2 linked regions of the Homo sapiens genome follow. The protein of the gene in region 1 interacts with the protein of each later gene in a pairwise test. Each region holds a gene or a part of one and is shown on either strand. Other genes may lie near its edges.

Region 1 (4,327 bases):
TCCCCTGGGAGGTGAGGGCCTGATCAAGGCACCTCCTCTGCCCACTCGGGGCCCAGCTGTGATTTTTATCAGTAATGGCCATGCCTCCACCCACCTTAGTTAGGAGCTACTTCCAAAAAGCATCCTTCAGCCTCTTCCTGTCCTTTAGACCTGACTCTCTACCAGATGTTTGGAGGGAAGGGCTGGGGCTCTGAGCCAGATTCCACACCTCACGTTCAGTCACAGCCCTCAGCTATCTTCCCTCCGGCCACTGGGCTACCTCTCCTTCAGTCCCAGAAGACAAGTCTCACCAACCCAGGGAGTCAAGGACCAGCAAACCAAAGTGGATAATGGACTTTTTCATTCCTGTTTTTCTTGGCAGGAGAGAAGCAAGGCCACTAAAAGAGGAGATGGTGGAGACGGAGGCTCAGCAGTGGTCTTGAGGGGTAAAGGACTTAGATGCCCAGATGAAGAGGGAAAGCTGACATCTGCAGGGAACCCACTTTGAGGCTGAGGCCATGGCAGGACAGCTGCTGTGGGGTGCAGAGGCAGAAGATGAAGGACAAAAGGAAGGGAAAACTGATGGCCAACCTAGAGCAGCAAGGAGCAGGGCTTGGAGCTCGGGTGGTGGAGATGACAAGGACACTGTGGGGTCTGGGTCCCCAGAACTCTGGAGCTACAGGCCACTCTAGGCCCAAGGGCTAGTCCTCTTCCCCAGTCCCCTCAGAGGCCCCCGCCAGCCCCACCTTGAAAGCAGCATACAGGGGAAGGCTTGGACCAAGCTGGGCGACCAAGCACATGGGGCAGGAACACATGGTAAAGGGGTGGGGAATATGGGAGGGAGTGTGGTGTGGATGGGGGTGATGCAGGGACTGAGGGGAACCCTGGGACAGGCACAGGCTGGGCAGAGGCACAGGGCAGTGCAGGGGACTCTGCAGTGGGGTCGGGAAGTGAGTTTCTTTGCAGTGAGCAGTGCAGTGGAAGTCGGGCACAGAGGTAGCAGACAGATGTGAAGCAGTGGTGAAGGCCATGTAGCAAGTGGGGAAATACATCCAAAGGGCCTGGGAGTTGGGGGGTGCCCAACGCAATCCTTGGGGGTGCAGGGTGGAGCAGAAAGTGAAGGAGGGACACGTGCAAGAGTGGTGTGCATGGTGGTGTGACATGAGGACCGTTCCTAGGATGGGACAGTGGGTCAGGCAGGACAAGGAGAAAGCAGGGCAGAATGATGCCTAGAGGACCACATCAGGCATGGCTGACAGCTTGTGCCCATGGGCTGTGGCGTATGTCAGATCGCAGGGTAGGAACGAGTCTGGCCTGGTGCCGGCCCAGTGTTTCCTCAGCTCATCCGCCCTCTGTTGCTCCCTAGCATTCCAGGAGCCATCTTGGACTCTCCTCCCCAGGTTTGAAAGGCCATCAGATTAGCAGGGACGGGGTGTAGGGCATCACCCAAGGTTCCTTCTCTTAAACTAAGGGTGGGGGATCTGAATGTTTTTATGTTGACTGTTCTTGACTAAATTTTCAAGAGTTTCAGAAGCAACAGGACAGACCAGACGTTTCATTCTACCCTGGGGCGAACAGAACTTCTTCCTCCCAAACAATGACTTCCTGCCATGTTTGATGGGGACAGCTACCACTGTCCTCTGCCCCCATTCCCCTTTCAGCTCCCATGAGCATGCATAGTTCACCAGACCAATGGCCTAGCCATTCTCTAAGTCCCATCCTGGAAGAAGTTATTTCTTCAAGAGCTGCACCTCTCCTCCTAGCATTAGTTTAGATCAACTCAAGGAGTATTTATTAATGGCTGCTGTCTCCAGTTTCTGGGGTTAAGCACTAAGGACACAAGAATCAATCAGACCTTCTCCCTGAACTTAAGATAGCCACAATCAGAAAAAGGACAAGGACATGAGACAGTGGTGATGGCCATCAGACAGAGACTTCAAATGCTGATGGAGGGCAGAGGAAGTACTTAGGGAGGTTGGTGTCAGAGGCAGGAGTGGGGGATCAGGGAAGGTGGATTCTAGGAAAAGGGAGTGCCTGAGGTAGGCCTTAGAAGGGGATGAGTCAGATTTTTACAGAGGAGGAGGGCAGGGCTTGGGTCCAGTGGAGGAAGAAGGAAGGAGAGGCTTGGAAAGCCTTGTGTCTTGGGAACAAAAGGCCTTTGAGCATATGGGTCCAGCCACTCAGAAGTGTAGGGGCCATGCCTTGGTGTTCCAATAAGTGAATGGAAGCAGTGGTGGTAGCTACACTGGGCAGAGTTGGCAGGGTGCTGGTTCACTCTGCCCAGCCCTGAATGTGTGCCTTAAAGGCCCCCTACAAGGGGCCCCATACGACAGAGCTTTTAACTGGTGCCTTCCCTGTACCCGCAGCAGCCACAAGTGGGCCCAGACTATTGCAGCCTCCCATAAACATGTGAGCATGTTCTGAGTGTGCCATGATGTGAGTGGACCTGGCTGGAATCTTCGGAGAGCGACTGAGGTGTTCAAATCGAATCTCCCAGGAGGCTTCCTTCCAGCCCCCTATTCTGGTAACTACCAGGAGGCTTCCTTCCAGCCCCCTATTCTGGTAACTACCAAAATCCCTCGGGTGCAAGTGTAGGGGTAGAGATGGAAGGATGAGAGGTGAAATTGACCTTTTGAAAGCAAAGCTCTGGCTCACAGGCCCCAAACTACCAGCCGTATCTAGCATATCCCCACCCTCCACCCACTACCTCCTCCAACAAAGGAGTCAACTCAGTTGAAAAAACTGGTCCTTTGGCCTATCCATGGGTCAAAGTCCACCTCTCCTGGGGGCCTGGAGAGGACTGAGCCTACGGAAAGGGGATACCTTCCCACTCAGCACTGCTTCACACAGGCCCCCTGCCTGGGGCTCTCCAAGGAGCCTTCTTCACCCACTTCCAGCTCCACTTCTGCAAGGTTAAGTCAAGTGAGAACGATGAGAAATAGGGAGATGGTGTCTCCTTAAGTCCTTGATCTGCCTGTCTGTGGAATGGGAGGTTGGATTAGCTGCGCTGAGGTCCCATCCACAGCTGGTGCTCAGCTGCTTGAAGGGGAGACTCCCTCCTCTGTAACTTCTTTCTGGGGGATTGGGGTGGGCAGTACCTATCCCCAGTCCCCTCCTAGCTTGACTTTAGTGGTTTCCAATGTAGAAGTTAACAAAGTATGCCCCATTCCTGTGACAAAAGCACAACCATTCTGAAGTTACTGGAGCATGGGCTCAGCTCATCCTCCCTCTGGCCCCTTCTCCCATGGGGACATCTCGGCCCAGCACCCCTATCCCATTTCCAGAGTTCTTCCTTCCCCATCTGGGCCTTCATAAAATGCAGGGGAAGCCAGACTGGTCTCAGGAGCGCTAAAGCCCTTCCGTGGGGGGTCGTCTTTCTGGGACTAGCCCTGCTGTTTAGGACCTGGGACCACAATGGGGTACCTGCCGAGGGGGTCCCCAAGAGATCCAGGCTGTCATGTGATTTATGGTGGCATGTGTTGTGTATTTGTTGGCTACTTGTGTCTTGAAATCTAGAATTATTTCACGCAGAATTGTCACTGTTTGTCAGGAAGAGAAAATGGGCTAGTGGAAGCCCAGTCTTGAGTTCTTGTCTTGTTACCATTTAAAATTGACATTTAATTTTCAAATCACTGTTGGTGCCTAATCACTTAAGTTATTAATTTATTCTGTTGTATTCTTTTTTTTAAATTGTAACATATTTATCCGGTGGGTGGGACAGGAGTGTGTTCAAGTGGGTCATGTTTTTGCTGTGGTGACACATGGTACAGGCTTGGAGCTTGCAGGTCCCTTTCTACTGTGGTGTTGGAGCAGGACAATAAAGTCCACTAGAAATGCACCCCAGAACCAGCTGCCGTGTCCATCTTGTCTTGAGGGGCTTGGTGGTGGAACCCGTTCTCACTCCAGTCTGTTCCAATTTTTGCTTTATTTGGAAATAATTGGGTATTTTTCTTGGCTGTGAATAAGAACAAATGCTCTCTACCTCAGCGTCTGTTGTAAAGTGGAAATCATACTAGCATTTACCCATCCAGCTTTCTTAGGCGTCTAGAGATGGGTTCTGGGCGTGTCTGTCTGCTGCTTTCACAGGTCACTTAGATGTGACATCTTGAGGGTCTGTGACATTGGGCCCAAACTCCACACCACCATCACAGCAGGCAGCCCCTGGGGAAGGAGGTAGGTAAAGGCTTGAGAGCTGCCTCCCAGGTGCATCCTCTCCACGGGCAGCATCACCCAGCCCTCAGTAAGGTAAGTAAGTCAGTCAGTCCACACGTTTACTTACACCCCACTTCAGTAGATTCAGTAGAGGGCTCTTGGCTCCCTGTGGCATCTCACACGTCACTGGGGGGCA
Region 2 (7,299 bases), about 51 Mb from region 1:
CAGCTGTATGAGAAATTTTCTGTGAGTACAGGCTACTTTTGAATCTAATTCTTTGTGGAACTTTGCTGTGCTTTTGTTCAAAACACATGAACTTTGGTTTGGTCACATGTAAGAAATAGTTCTGTGACTGAAATGACTCCTTAAAAAAACAAATATTGCCAGCTAGTCGGTGGTCTTTGCTGTTTTCACATTGTCATTCTTGTGCTTTCTGACTTTGAGCTGCTAGTCTTGTCACACTTAATACTGATGACCATCAAGCCTTTTTAAAATTAGTTTCGTAGATCTCAGTGTTCACACTGTGTGGAAACAGTTTACTTCCTGAATACAATGTTGTGTTTCCTCGCCATTTCACATCCAAGAGCAAAGCAAGTTGATCTCAGAGTGAAAACTGAATTGTAAGTGAACTTTCATTTTTACTAACAGAGCTCACTAGTTTATTTTGTACTGTGACTCTTCTAGGATGCAGTTTCAGCAGCAACAGATGAAGAAAGGCTGATAAAAATCCACGATGTCATCCAGCAGCTCCCCCCACCACACTACAGGTCAGCCACAGTGGGTAAATACCAGGCAGAGGTAGAAGTCGGTTGACCTGTAAACGTTTTTTTTTCCTTTGGATTTCTATTTAAACTTCCTTGGAGTTCTAATTAAACTTCCATTTCATATATATATATATATATATATATATACACACACACACACACACACACACACACGCACACACACACACACTATATGTATGTGTACCTATATGTATATGTATATGTTTATGTATAGATATTCATTTGTCCTTAGATCCCCAGGGCCTGGCACACTGTTTAGCATTCCATAGGTACTTAAAGGTTGAATGAATGAATGGATGGACAAAGGGATGGCTGACTAAACTTGGGGGTTTTTTGTTTGTTTGTTTTAGTTTCTTCTTTGGTTTTATTGTTGTTGCTACATTTTAAAACCTAATTTGATTTGTGTGTTAGTTTGGAGTGTTGGAAATATTTATGGTTATGTCTGAGAAAGCCAGAATAAAATTGAAAGTTACTTTGCCAGTTAGAAAAAGACAACAGTAGAAACTAGATTCCAGTATGCAAAGAAACAAAAGATACATTTTAAAATTCCAATTACTGACAAGAAATTAAACTCAGCGGATGTTCTAGTAATATGCAAATTAAGTAATTTAATTTTTTTTTTCAAAATGACATTGCTTATGTATATATTTCAAAAATCAGCACTATAGGCCAGGCGCCATGGCTTACACCTGTAATCCCAGCACTTTGGGAGGCCGAGGTGGGTGGATCACCTGAGGTGAGGAGTTTGAGACCAGCCTGGCCAACATGGCAAAACCCCGTCTCTACTAAAACTACAAAATTAGCCGGGCATGGTAGCACGCGCCTATAATCCCAGCTACTCGGGGGCTGAGGCAGGAGAATCACTTGAACTTGGGAGGTGGAGGTTGCAGTGAGCCGAGATCATGCCACTGCACCCCAGCTGGACAACAAAGCGAGACTCCATTTAAAAAAAAATTCTAATTGTGGTTTCTGTTTAATGTTTATCACCTTTGCACCATCATAAACGTCAAAAAATCATAAATTGAACCATTGTAAGTTGGAGACTATCTGTATACAATCTTTCTAAAACATAAGGTACTTGAGGTCATGAATTCTGTCTTGTTTATCACTGTATTTCCAGAATAGAGTCTTGCAGATAGATGTTCAATAATATACACTGCATATATGTTTTATATCTTCTGCACACTATTTTATAGCTTGACTATAGATACTTATATGTATATATATCCTAATATTATCCACTTTGCCTGTCTTCTAATATATATTATATTACTTACCATGTATGCCCTACCTGGATTTCATACCTTGCCTGCTATTAATATGTACATGTATATCTCCTGCTTTATAATGTATACAATATCTTGTGTAACTCTTTTCTTCACTATAACTTATATGTGTGTGTATCTCCTACTTTGTATATCTTTTGATATAGACTTTTTATCCAAAATTTTAACATTAACATTTCTGAATTCCTTAGATGTTCTTGAAAAGCGTAATTTTCCATCATGTTCTCTCATTTGGATATGCCATGTTATTTAACCTTTCATAATTTGCATATTTAATCTACATATATGGTGGTATGGGGTGTTTTCTATTTCCTTTTTTTTTTTGAGGCAGGGTCTCACTCTGTTACCCAGGCTGGAGTGCAGTGGCACAATCTTGGCTCCCTGCAGCCTCTGCCTCCCAGGCTCAAGTGATTCTCCCACCTCAGCCCCCCAAGTAGCTGAGACCACTGGCACACACCACCATGCCCAGCTAATTTTTTGTATTTTTGGTAGAGTTGGGGTTTTGCCATGTTGCCTAGGCTGGTCTCAAACTCCTGAGCTCAGGTGATCCACCCACCTCAGCATCCCAAAGTGCTGGGATTACAGGTGTGAGCCACTGTGCCCGGCCTTCCTTTTCCAATTTTGAATATTACTATGAGGGCCATCCTTTTACATGGTATCTAGATTATGTTTTTTATTACAGGATAATGACCTGGCAGTGAAATTCTGGAAATCTAAATTATTATTCTCAATATTAGACAATAATATCCAAATTACGTTCCAGGTTGCGAAGTTTTATACAATTCACACTCTCATCTGCTGAATATAAAAGTGCTCATTTTGTGGAATCCTGACTAAAATTCTACATTAACTTTTAAAGACATCCTTATAATCAGATAGGCAAACCAAATAGATGTCTTTGGTTTTTTAAATTTGCAATTCTCATAAAATACATTCCTGAAGTCCTTTAATCATTCCCTTCATTCACCTTCCTCAAGTAATAAAATTTTACATGGTTTTCTTTTTTTTTTGGCTGAGGAGCCTGGCTTTATTCTATTTTATTTATTTATTTTTTTATTATACTTTAAGTTTTAGGGTACATGTGCACAATATGCAGGTTTGTTACATATGTATACATGTGCCATGTTGGTGTGCTGCACCCATTAACTCGTCATTTACATTAGGTATATCTCCTAATGCTATCCCTCCCCCTTCCCCCCACCCCACAACAGGCCCCGGTGTGTGATGTTCCCCTTCTTGTGTCCATGTGATCTCATTGTTCAATTCCCACCTATGAGTGAGAACATGCGGTGTTTGGTTTTTTGTCCTTGCGATCTAAATACGTTTCTCAAGCTTCTCACCTCTATGTCATACCCAGGCCAGCCTCACTTCGGTTTGTCTTCTCTTAATTATATACAGCAGAGACAGAGAATTACCATTTTAACTGTAAAGCAACTACAATGCCCTTGAACGCGCAGGCACTTTGGAGCCACTCTGACCTTGATTTGAAATGCAGCACTGCCACTGCTAGTCTGTGGAACCCCAGCAACCTTGACTTTGTCCTCGGTACAAGGGGAATGGTAATTCTGTGCTTGTTAGAGCTATTATGAGAATTAAATGAGACTGCTGGTAAAAGCCTCTTGAACAATGCCTAATGCCGAGTCTAACTATGATATTCCTTTTCCTCTCAAATTCATGTTAGGCCCATCTGAATCTTTGTGGCTCGGATGTAGACCACATTTTATCTTTCATTACTGTTTCATATAATACAGCCTTATATTTCTGTCTCCCATTCATTGTCCTTTTTTTTTTTTTTTTTTTTTTTTTTAAAGACAAGGTCTCACTCTGTCACCCAGGCTGGAGTGCAGTGGCATGATCACAGCTCACTGCAGCCTCAACCTTCCTGGGCTGAAGCAATCCTCCTGCCTCAGCCTCCCGAGTAGCTGGCACTACAGGCATGCACCACCACACCCAGCTAATTGTTTTTACACTTTTTGTAGAGATGGGGTTTCACTGTGTTGCCCAGGCTGGTCTTGAACTCTCGAGTTCAAGTGATCTGCCTGCCTCAGCCTCCCAGACTGCTGAGATTACAGGCAATAGCCATCACACCCAGCCCGTTGTCTTTAGTAGTTTTACTCTGGGCACTATTAGGTAGGACGCTTTGAGACATGCTAGGTGATAGATAATACCTCTGTGTGTGCATGCGCACAGACACACACACACACACACACACACACACACACACGGCACTTACCTGGTTTAACTTACATTTAAGGTGATCATGTCTTGTTTTCAAAAGTACTCTTCCCTATTGTTTAATCACAATATATGTGGAATTGTTTAAGTAAAGCAAATTTTAAGTAGTCAAGATAAACCAGAATATGAGGATTTGAATTAGGCTCTTTATTTCAAAAGCATATCCTTTGCTCAAATATTCTCCCCTTGATGCCTATTGGAATTTTTCTTGTAACTGTTTTAAGGCTTTTGAGACATTACTGTTTTCTTTCATAGAAGTGTTGAAATCCTTTCCTGTTAGTATGTCTGCTGCAAGTAGAATGGCATAACTTCAAAATATTATTTGTTCCAGAAACTAGCTTTGGTGGAAGATTCACTTCTAATAGTAATATTTCAACCTGTTAAGCAGGAAAAAAAAGTTCTCTTGGGTTTGTATGGTCCCTTTCTTCATTTTGCTATTGCAAACTTAGGAATTAATTAGCAGGCTTTTATGTTCTATACTGCTGCATCATGTTTCTTTCTGTTAATATGTTGTATTTTATTTCCAGAACACTGGAGTTCCTGATGAGACACTTGTCTCTTCTAGCTGACTATTGTTCCATCACAAATATGCATGCAAAAAATCTAGCAATTGTTTGGGCTCCAAACCTGTTAAGGTAATTTGCATTTCACTTATTAATTTTAGTAGAACTAATCCTAAATAAAAGGCTGATTCATCAGTGTTCTTTAAGGAAACTTTTAAAAGATTAAACAAATCTGTTCTTTTTATTTGCATCTCCCTAAAACAGGCAACTGGGCCTTAGCTAAGGGACAGTAAAAGTATGATTTCTTCCTCTGTTTGTCTGAGATTTACACGTTTAAAAAAAGAGGCCCTTGACGACTGCTATCTTTACAACTCTGTGATGAAAATGTTTACCTCACAGATCAAAACAGATAGAATCTGCCTGCTTCAGTGGAACAGCAGCTTTCATGGAAGTGAGGATTCAGTCTGTGGTTGTTGAGTTCATCCTGAATCACGTTGATGTGCTGTTCAGCGGCAGAATCAGCATGGCCATGCAAGAGGGGGCAGGTACGGCTCCGATGGCCCTTCCTACCAGGAGGGTGTGTCTCAGCTTCCAGAGGAGTAGCAAACCATGCATTTCTTATTGCAACAACAAAAACGTGTCACTGGTATAAGGCAGCTAATAATGTATGGCTGCTTACCAAAATGCACAATTTGACAGTTATTTTGTGTGTATATAGTGAATACTACATATGAGACCTATTGTGATCTAAGTTCATGACACATTAAAAAACTTGTCGTTCATTATTGATGTGTATTAAAGTATAAAGTGGAACAGAAGAAGAAAAATTGCTTCCAAAACTAAAAATATCTGAGTGATTGATCACCTTTCCTCATATCTTTTAAGAAAGGAAAACAGTTATTAAAGAGTTTTATATGTGTGTATGTGTGCCACTGGTGTATCCCCTTCAGTTTTTTATTTAATATAAAGCTTTTCTCATATCTTTTAAGAAAGGAAAACAGTTATTAAAGGGTTTTATATGTATGTATGTGTGCCACTGGTATGTCCCCTTCAGTTTTTCATTTAATATAAAGCACTATGGTTTTTGCTATTTAACATACTTGAAGAAAATTTGAAACAACAGATAGGTAGATAGATGGAGAGATAGATACTAACAAATTGAATACACTCACGTAGTTGACTCTCTTCATCAGCTTCCTTTTCTTTTTGAAGCTTCTCTATCAAGGCCCAAGTCCCTCCTGGTATCCTCTCCATCCACCAAACTGCTGACATTGGAAGAGGCCCAGGCACGAACACAAGCTCAGGTCAATTCTCCAATTGTGACGGAAAATAAATATATCGAAGTAGGAGAAGGACCTGCTGCACTTCAGGGGAAATTTCATACCATAATTGAGTTCCCACTTGAAAGGTAAAATTTGTTAAATCCTATTTTGGGATATGATTTTCATAGCTATGTCCTATTATTTTCTTTTAGTTTGCTTTTAATTTTGTATTTTAGTATTACTCTATTGAATTCTAGGCTAGTCCCAGAGAAACCTGTTTATTCGAATATGGATGATACTTACCGCTTCATGGGGAATGATGCAAATGATTCTTGCTTTACAATGTCATGTAATTTTATAAAAGAAGAACATCAGTGGTATAGGGAAAATTGTTTGGAAAAATAAGGATATACTGTCACTATATGGGTTGATTTTGCTCTCTGAACTATGTTGTTTATAAAGTTGTTTAGAAATAAGCTGTGTTGGAAGAGTTTGTTCAGAAAGTCAGGAATGGACAGTGACTTGTTTGACATTGGTTTCACATTAAGGTTAGAAGAGATTAATAGTGTGGTCTCCCAGCCAACAGCATCAGCATCACCTGGTGATAATTGCTAGAAGTGCACATTGTGCAGTCGTCCAGTCACACCCCAGACCCGCTGAATCAGAAACCCTGGGCGTGGGACCCAGCAACTGGTCATTCATCTAACTTTCCAGGTGATTCTGATGTCTGCTAGGACTTGAGAACCACTGCAGCAGTTCACTCTTTCAATGTCCCTTCCAGCTCTGAAATTCTATTACTCTAAAGAAATGATAATAACATGGTTTCTGTATCTTCTTTACTAGGTTATAGTAGGAAGACTAATGTATGTAAAAGTTATTTTTGATGTCTCTGCTACTCCTTTGGCTATTACACATGAATGTAAGGATTTTGATTCTCTGGATTGGGTAGTACTAATATAACTTTAGAATTTGTTCTTCCCGTATTTTAGTATACTCCTCTAACTTCCTTTCACTTCCTGTGACTAAAAACATTCTATCAGCAAAAAGTTGGAACATACTCTTACTTTGTCATCCTGAGTTTGTCTTTAGCATCTTGATTTTATATTCTAGTTCCATAATTTACTCAAAGATTTATTTATGGAGTAGTAGTTAAGAGAGTAGATACTGGGATGTAGATTGGCCTGGGTTCCAATTCTGACTCCATCATTTAATAGTTTTATAATGTTAAAGAAGTTATTTGAACTTCTTAGTGTCATAATTTCCTTGGCTGCAAAATGAGAATAATAGTACTTACCTCATGTGGTTGTATCTGATTTAAAGGAGATATTACATATAAGGCAGGTAGCACAGTGCCTGGCATTCAGTATATGTTTGTTATTATTCTTAATCCTTGTCTTCTTTGTTTGCCTTTATTCTCTACTCACACCTAAAATCATTTTCTTTAACTCTGTGT

Evidence for each region.
Region 2: the proteins of GAB2 (region 1) and ARHGAP32 interact in a two-hybrid assay, tested with the Homo sapiens proteins (one study listed by BioGRID).

What each region holds. Positions count from the first base shown.
Region 1 is NC_000011.10:78,214,791-78,219,117, reverse strand, and holds the end of GAB2 (GRB2-associated-binding protein 2), read left to right. Parts: 3' UTR 1-3,825; downstream 3,826-4,327. UniProt on the Homo sapiens protein: Adapter protein which acts downstream of several membrane receptors including cytokine, antigen, hormone, cell matrix and growth factor receptors to regulate multiple signaling pathways.
Region 2 is NC_000011.10:128,979,246-128,986,544, reverse strand, and holds part of ARHGAP32 (rho GTPase-activating protein 32), read left to right. Parts: coding exon 1-21; intron 22-459; coding exon 460-542; intron 543-4,608; coding exon 4,609-4,716; intron 4,717-4,983; coding exon 4,984-5,129; intron 5,130-5,796; coding exon 5,797-5,992; intron 5,993-6,689; coding exon of another isoform or gene 6,690-6,696; exon of another isoform or gene 6,697-7,299. UniProt on the Homo sapiens protein: GTPase-activating protein (GAP) promoting GTP hydrolysis on RHOA, CDC42 and RAC1 small GTPases. May be involved in the differentiation of neuronal cells during the formation of neurite extensions.